2 linked regions of the Homo sapiens genome follow. The protein of the gene in region 1 purifies or fractionates together with the protein of each later gene. This does not show direct contact. Each region holds a gene or a part of one and is shown in the gene's direction. Other genes may lie near its edges.

Region 1 (5,175 bases):
TCTAGTACTTTGAAGGTGTTTAATAAATATTATATTGCAGTATCCAGTAAGAAATATTCAAAAGTTTGCTTAATGTGTCAGAGTAATTGCGTAAATATTGTACTCTGGCATTAGACATATGTTTCTAGTTGAAACCAGTTACCAGACATTAATCTTGGCTATAAAACAAGAAAATATATGGACTCTTGAAAATTTCTATTAAAGATAATCTTACTCTTTCTTATAACTTACGTTATTTGCATGTAATCATATACCATTTGTTTTACTTTTGGTCTTCAGGGTCTTTATGCTTCTTGAATAGTCAATAGATGAGGTATTAGGCTCAAACACTATACTTTGAAATGAAATATAAGTTATCTGTTTTTGTAGAATCAATATCTGAGCACTTCTACATTCTGTAGATAGTTATAGCAAAACCTTTTAATTCCTTTTCATCTAATAAAATTTGTGCCCCACAAAATCTATCTAAGGATAATAGAAGTAGTTCTAGACTTGAGAGAGTTCCAATCTCTTATAAGCTTTTTTTATTTGTAAAATGGAGAGATGGTAAAATCTAAGCAGATTTTATCCTTATATACAGTATTGTCATTCCCTTCATATCCCTGATAAATGGTTATAAAAATTGTGGCAGAGATCAGACTGTCCGTTCCTCTTGTGGATTGTTGAAATTATTAGATCTTAGTACTGCCCTCTAAAACTTGATTAGAAGACTGATTGCTCTTCAGTGTAGCCCTTGGTTTAAAGATAGTCGTGTCTCATCAAAATTTCTGTTTTGTTTTATTTTTTCGTAGTATAAATGTATACTAGTTTACTGTATAATTCTTTATCTTTATTAATTTATCTAGCATTTACTGCTTTTTGGTAGTGAGTTGGATGCCAGATATTTTAATAGACAGTATATTGGAGAGGACTGTGTTTGAATCCTTGCTTTGTTTCTTTTTAGCTCTATGATTTGGGCAGTTTACTTAATCTGAACCCTTATTTTCCCTGCTATGAAAAAAATGGAGCTATTAAATATGTAACTACCTAAATTATATTAAGTATTAAATAATGTAATATATGTAAAACATTTAGCTAAGTACCTAGTGCATAGGAGGCCCTCTCAGTGTGTGTTTGTTAGATGGCGAAAATCACAAAAAGCATGTTAGCAGGTCCAGTATAGGTAAAACATAGCATGCTTGGGAGGAGCGAAGGAAACATTGAAGCCAAGAGAGAAAGGACTTTAAAGGTGAAAGAGATTTGTCAGCAGTGGCTCAGACTGTAGAAAGGCCCAGTAGGATGGGGATTCAAAAGAGAGCTTCAGATTTGACAATTAGTAAATAGTAATCCGTTACCTTCCTTTTTAATGTCATTATTGTGTCCTTATTAAACAAACTTTCCCTGATTATCCATACTTCTCCAAGACAGCATTATGACCATCTCTTCTCCCCTTACTTTGTTCTACCTTCATTGTGGTTATCACCATGTAACATTTTATATATTAGTTTTTATTCATTTTTTCCCTGTTAGATCAGTGAAAGCTCTATAAGATCAGAGTATTTGTTTTTTATCATCCTTATACTCCTACCTCCTAGAACAGTTTCTGCCTCATGCTAGGTGCTCAACAAATACTTATTGAATCAAGGAATGAATGTATTTCTTTCTTTCTTTCTTTCTTTCTTTTTTTTTTTTTGATACGGAGTTTCGCTTTTGTTGCCCAGGCTGGAGTGCAGTGGCATGATCTGGGCTCACCACAACCTCCGCCTTCTGGGTTCAAGCGATTCTCCTCCCTCAGCCTCCGGAGTAGCTGGGATTACAGGCATGTGCCACCAAGCCTAGTTAATTTTGTATTTTTAGTAGAGATGGGGTTTCTGCATGTTGGTCAGGCTGATCTCGAACTCCTGACCTCAGGTGGTCTGCCTGCCTCGACGTCCCAAAGTGCTGGGATTACAGGTGTGAGCCAACGCACTCGGCGGAATGGATGTATTTCAATATAGTGCTTGGCCTGATAATGTCTCCCTGCAGTTCAGACAGTGAGTGAATGAGAGGCAGAGAAGGACTAAGCAGAAAATGTAAGTTAGTGTTTCAAAAAATGTGCTCATCAGGACATTGGTGGAGAACATTGGTTTTGGGAGTACAAAGGATTTCTGATAAAATAAATTTGGGCAAATAACAACATACTAAGCTTCTTTTTTTAAGACTAAGGGAGTTCTGCTCTAAGAGAACCCATTTAACTTAGGTTAATGTACCATTTTCCAAACATTTGGCCATGTAGCAAGGGATTCGTGGATAATTCCTAGTATAAATGATGGGTCATGTTCAGACTGGGTAGGAAAGGACATGCAGCCAGGAATGAACTTATTAAGAAAAGCAAGTCACTCTGAGATCAAGATAGTAACTTAGAGAAAGGTAGGAGGTAGAATTCTATGGTTAAAGAGGAAACTTGAGTGTTTTAAAGTCCAGAGTTGGTTGTTTTGGCAGTAGTTTTGCTGAACTAGAGTGTAGGTGACTAAAATGCTGTGAAGGATGAAGGTTGTGTGTTGAGTCGGGTAGGCATTGACTAGGTTAAGACAAAAACTCTTCTAGGATGAGCTGAAAAGGGTAAATCTTCTGAGACACTGGATAATATTGATCTGAAAGTAATTCGATTTTGGAAAGGATATTGGGAAGAAAGTGATATAACATATTTAGTGCTTCAGAAGAAAGATTTGTTGAGTGTTAAAGGAGTCAAATGAACGGTGATAGAATATAAGACTTACCAGCAGTGAGGAGATGGACATGCCACAAGGGAGGCCAGAACTGTTCTTAATTTCCAAGATTTCTTTGAAAATGTTCTCTCATAGTTCTTAAATGTATGCATTTTAAAATGTCACAACTATTTGAAATAAAATCTTTATTTCTCATCACTTATAGTGTTAGATAAAGATACCATTTCAAGTCTTACCATCATGCAGGTTTTGAAGTTGCAAAACATAAGCAACTCATAACAGAATCAACAGTGTGTGCCAGATAGATTTTGTAAGGAGAGATTGGCTTCTTAAAAGTTCTAGAATATTAAAGTACTTTATTGACTTGGTTGTATCCATCACCTTGAGTGCTTATTTCAACAGTATTTGCTCTCTGATATAATATTCACCAATAATCACCCCTCTGAATATCATCTTTCTCTTGTATTTTTATAAGCTGCAAAATTTGCTAGTTTTTGCCACTTAGGAAAGGTTAGTGGAGATTGCCTGCATGCCTTGGAAAGTAATATTTTTTATTTCTGTAGGTTATGAAACATTTTTATATGTAATAATTGATCCTCTGAAATTTTAAAGTAAATTGAGCAGATATTAGCCTCATTTAACTGTTGTTAAACTGAGTCTGCCTATATGATTATCATATATTTCTTTCTAATTCATGTCTTAAAGGCTTCTCTAACAAGGAGTTCTTTGCTGTAGGTCCTTTCAGGTTCTCAGTTCTCTGTGTAGATAAGTGGAAGTTATTTCCTTAATGTGGTGTACACTACCTGAAGCATTCGTTCTACCATCTGCAGTTGGTTTAATCATTCTTATATATAAACTTTATTTAAAAAGTCAGTAAGAAAGATGTCTTCCATGTACTTTTCTTGCTAATGTAGTCTTAAGGTAGATTTTGTTAAATTACCGTACGTTACAGATAAAAAGGGACCGTATGTCATTTAACTTAACTTCCTTATTTTATGTAAGGAAATCTAAACCTTAGAGAGCTTAAGTATCTTGCCTGAGGACTCATAGTTCTCAGTGACAGAGCTGGGGACTTGAAGTTAGATAATGTAAGACAAATTCCAGTGCTTTTTCAACTATACTGTCATGTCTTTTAATGAATTTAATTAGAGCAAAATGTGGCTTTTGACTCTGAGGCCTAAGGTATTTATCATGATCTGGGTAGAAGATTCTATTAATATTTTTTTAAAAATTATTTTAGTAATAAAATTTATATCCAGGCACATGATGATTATTTTAATTGAGAGAAAGGTACAGCCACTTTATTATTTAATTAGTTGTGTGTGTGAGGTCAGAATATTTTAACCCCTTGGTCCAATTAATCTTAATATAAGTATCATATGTATAAAATAACAATTCAAATAATACATGCGGTTTGCATAACTAGGTGATCTTAACCTTATAGCAGTATGCTTTCTATTATCTGGTGATAAAGAGAAAACGATTTTTTTTACCCTACACTCTGCAGATCAACTCAGTATGTCACTTAACTGATCACCAGCAGTATTTCTTCATGCCTTGGAGATTAATAAGATAAATTTTGTTTTTAAGGTTTAGTAATTTACCGTAGAGATAACCTTTAAGATAAAAGAACATGACAAATTGATTTGGTTAAAATAATTACAAGAAAACTACATATTTCCAACTAATCAGCTTGGTTATCCTTAAATTATGACTTTTCTGTGTTTATTCTGGTCTTTTTGCCCACTGGTAACTCTTAAGCCCATTTTAATTGATAATTTTTCTTACTTCAAATTACAGTAAGAAATTTGTTTTACAGCAACTGACAACTTACCAATGAAACTAAAGAAAACATTATAATGTGAAGTTTCACAATTTAAACTACATAAATTATTTTTAATTTTTTTTTTAATTTTACTTTAAGTTCTGGGCTACATGTGCAGAACGTGCAGGCTTGTTATACAGGTATACATGTGCCATGGTGGTTTGCTGCACCCATCAACCTGTCATCTAGGTTTTAAGCCCCACATGCATTAGGTATTTGTCTTAATGCTCTCCCTCCTTTTGCCTCCCACCCCCTGACAGGCCCTGGAGTGTGATGTTCCCCTCCCTGTGTCCATGTGTTCTCATTGTTCAGCTCCCACTTATGAATAAGAACATGCGGTGTTTGATTTTCTGTTCCTGTGTTAGTTTGCTGAGAAAGATGGTTTCCAGCTTCATCCATGTCCCTGCAAAGGACATGAACTCATTCTTTTTTATGGCTGCATAGTATTCCATGGTAGACATGTGCCACATTTTGTTTATCCAGTCTATCATTGATGGGCATTTGGGTTGGTTCTAAGTCTTTGCTATTGTAAATAGTGCTGCAGTAAGCATACGTGTGCATGTGTCTTTATAGTAGAATGATTTATAATACTTTGGGTACATACCCGGTAATGGGATTGCTGGGTCAAATGGTATTTCTGGTTCTAGATCCTTGAAGAATCAC
Region 2 (3,835 bases), on another chromosome or scaffold:
TTTCCTATGCTATGAAAAACGGGAGATAACTATTCTATCTACTTGAGTTCCTGTTGAAAATTAGATGATTATATGTGATTGGTCTTTGTAAATTACAATGTGATAGACATGCATAATATACGTGGCTTAGTTATATTACTGTCTCCTAGAGAAATATAAGACATACTTTTTTTTTTGGTCAAGCTAACTTTATCTTGTTTTCTAGATTGTTATTTTGTGTCAGTAAGTAATCCATAAAGTGCCAACATGGGAAAGAAACGGACAAAGGGAAAAACTGTTCCAATCGATGATTCCTCTGAAACTTTAGGTATATTTCATTGATTGAATCTTTAATGTTTATATCTCTAAATGAATATGTTTTAAAATGTAAAAATGGTATAAAGCTGCATATTATTGTTATATTATCTGCATTTTAATATAATGTTTGTATCTATATGTCATTTAATAGTCTTCTACTTTTTTTTTTTTTTTTGAGAAAGAATCTCGCTCTGTTGCCCAGGCTGGAGTGCAGTGGTGCAATCTCAGCTCACTGCAACCTCCGCCTCCCAGGTTCAAACGGTTCTCTCGTGCCTCAGCCTCTGAGTAGCTGGGATTACAGACACATCCCACCACAGCCAGCTAATTTTTTTTTTTTTTTTTAATAGTGACGGGGTTTCCCTGTGTTGGTCAGGCTGGTCTTGAACTCCTGGCCTCAAGTGATCCGCCTGCCTTGGCCTCCAAAAGTGCTAGGATTACACGTGAGAGCCACTGCACCTGACTTTCTACATCTTTTTTGTTTTTTTTCCTGAGACGGAGTCTGGCTCTGTTGCCCAGGCTGGAGTGCAGTAGTGTGATCTCAGCTCACTGCAGCCTTTGCCTTGAGGGTTCAAGCGATTCTCCTGTCTCAGCCTCATGAGTAGCTGGGATTACAGGTGTGCTCCACCACACCCAGCTAATTTTTGTATTTTTAGTAGAGACAGGGTTTCACCATGTTGACCAGGCTGGTCTTGAACTCCTGACCTCAAGTGATCCGCTTCCTCAGCATCCCAAAGTGCTGGGATTACAGGCGTGAGCCACCGCGCCCGACCTTCAACAACATTTTTAATGGCATATTATTGCATTTAGCAAAGACCATGGATGTATATTTCATAATTTATTTAGATAATTTTCTACTGTTACAGATTTAGGTAATCTTTAACTTTTTAGTATTATGAATGGCTCAGTAGTAAACAACTTTATAGCTAAATCTCTCTGTACATCCAAATATTTTCCTAATACACATACATAATTTTTGAATCGAAGGGTGTAAACATTTTTAAGACTCTTTTGATCCTGTTGCTAAATTGCCATCCAGAAATGTTTTACTAATTTCCAGGCCCCCTATTAGCGTAGTAAAGTGCCCATTTCCCTGAACCTTCATCGGCACTGGTTAGTATCATCTGTAAACATCTGTGCTGATTTGGTAGTTAAAAAAGGTTACCTTCTGACCAGGTGTGGTGGCTCACGCCTGTAATCCCAGCACTCTGGGAGGCCAAGGCGGGCAGATCACGAGGTCAGGAGATCGAGACCATCCTGGCTAACACGGTGAAACCCCGTCTCTACTAAACATACAAAAAATTAGCTGGGCGTGGTGGCGGGCGCCTGTAGTCCCAGCTACTTGGGAGGCTGAGGCAGGAGAATGGCGTGAACCTGGGAGGCGGAGCTTGCAGTGAGCCGAGATTGTGCCACTGCACTCCAGCCTGGGCAACAGAGCAAGACTCCGTCTCAAAAAGAAAAAAGAAAAAAAAGGGTACCTTCTTTTTCTAGTTTGTATTTCTTTGACTACTGAGATTTGGTAGTTTTTCCACCTGATCCCATTTGCATTTATATTTCTTTTCTTGGTGCAAGATCATTGGACATAAAGCTAATTATGCCACTTGACTAGTTTCTAAACCTCCAGTGTTCCTGGAACAACTCAGCACTGTAGAGTGGTTTGCAAAGCTCTTTACTTATCTTGGCCCCAACAGAGTTTTCAGCCTCAGGTTCAACTGCTCATTTTTGCACATTGTGTAACTCCATCATCTGGGGAGACAGCATGCACTTTCACATGTTTTTGTTCTTGGCATGGGCATTTTCAGATTGCCCTTCACTCCCTGAGGTCGCAGTTTAAAGTGTGAGCTATGAAGTCTGAAAGACTTGAGTCTAAATTCTGGCATAGATACTCAGTAGTTATGTGGGTACTAAATCTTAGTTTTCTCATTTGTCATTGGGAATAATAGTGTCTTCTAGGGTGATTGTAAGGATTAAATGGGATAATGTATTCAAAACATTTAACAAAGTTCATAGGACATATTTAATTAATATCAGCAATTTTTATTACTATTATTATCTTCTAGGATTGCACAGATGTTACCTCCCCTGTGAAACTTTTGGTGACTTTAGCCTTCTCTGCTTGTGCTGCTATACCATGTTTCGGAGATTCTTATACATTAATTTATTTAGCTGCCTTTCCTTCCAGAATGTGAGCTACTCAAAGAAAACAGCTGTGACTTGGTCAATTTTGGGCTCCTGAGCGTCTAGCACAGTGCCTGCCCTATAGTAGGTGTATTATTGACTAAATGAAGGACGTTTTCTACAAATCTTTAAAGATAAAGAGAATCATAAGTATGATAAAGGGCCTTAATTTAAAGGAAATAGCCAAATAAATTGAAATGAATTTGTAGTGGGGGACAGTGGTGGTTATATTTAGGACTTCAAGAAAGCGAAACTTCACAAATTTGTGTCAAATCTCTTTCTCACATATTTATCTCATATTATTCAAATATCAAACAATTTTAAGTTCAGAATATCTTAACAGTTTATAGAGTAAATTTCATTTTTGAAATGTGAATCGAGGGTAAGTTTTGAGATTAACTGAAGAAAGTCATTTTTGACCTTATATATTCCTTGTCTATTATTTGTTTTAATAGAACCTGTGTGCAGACACATTAGAAAAGGATTGGAACAAGGTAATTTGAAAAAGGCTTTAGTGAATGTGGAATGGAATATCTGCCAAGACTGTAAGACTGACAATAAAGTGAAAGATAAAGCTGAAGAAGAAACAGAAGAAAAGCCTTCAGTTTGGCTGTGTCTTAAATGTGGCCATCAGGTATGCTTACGTTTTAAGATCAATATGGGATTTTAGAAAACTCTTTGAACTTACTTTAGAAGGTATTACCTGAAAGTACAGTATGGATAAAAGGATACTAGTAACATAGATCATGTTCTCTGGAGAACCAGTTCTGAGATGTGTGTATAGGTGGTGGAGTGTTCTCTGGTACCACACCAGTAAAAGTAAGGGAAGCAAGATTAAGCATAGGGAGAAGTTGAATGAAGAGGCAGTGGCAACAGGGTCTCAGCCAATCCCACAGTGATCTCTTGCCTGAATTGAGGCAAGGAGCTAGACCTTTCTACCTGTGCATAGACCAGTCATTGGATGTGGCCTGCCCCTAGAGCAGGAAGTAACCTTGGGCAAGGCAGCTCCCTTTTGTTGAGACTGATTCCTGGGGATGGATGGACTAGACTGTGAGCTCTCAGCCGGCCACATTCTCAGCACCTGGGGGAATGAGTAGTACCTTGATCTTTGGCAGTGAGGGCATGTCTGGCTGGCACATCACAGTATCTACTCTACCAGCTCACAGTTATTACCGTGGTACTAAAGTCAGGGTCTCTCAGTTACCCTTAGTGGTGGCAAGTTAAGCTTATATGTTAGGAAATTGGGCTACTAGGCAGTAGTCATGAAGTCATGAGGCTTCAAGATCAGGCAGATAGCCAGTTTTTTGTTGTTTTTTTGAGATGGGGTCTCACTCTGTCACCCAGGCTGGAGTGCAGTGGCACA

Evidence for each region. The genes of interacting proteins can lie anywhere in the genome.
Region 2: the proteins of ZC2HC1A (region 1) and USP16 fractionate together in Homo sapiens (co-fractionation; one large-scale study listed by BioGRID). This does not show direct contact.

The regions. Positions count from the first base shown.
Region 1 is NC_000008.11:78,668,313-78,673,487, forward strand, and holds part of ZC2HC1A (zinc finger C2HC domain-containing protein 1A), read left to right. Parts: intron 1-5,175.
Region 2 is NC_000021.9:29,027,668-29,031,502, forward strand, and holds part of USP16 (ubiquitin carboxyl-terminal hydrolase 16), read left to right. Parts: intron 1-205; 5' UTR 206-246; coding exon 247-307; intron 308-2,927; coding exon 2,928-3,106; intron 3,107-3,835. UniProt on the Homo sapiens protein: Specifically deubiquitinates 'Lys-120' of histone H2A (H2AK119Ub), a specific tag for epigenetic transcriptional repression, thereby acting as a coactivator.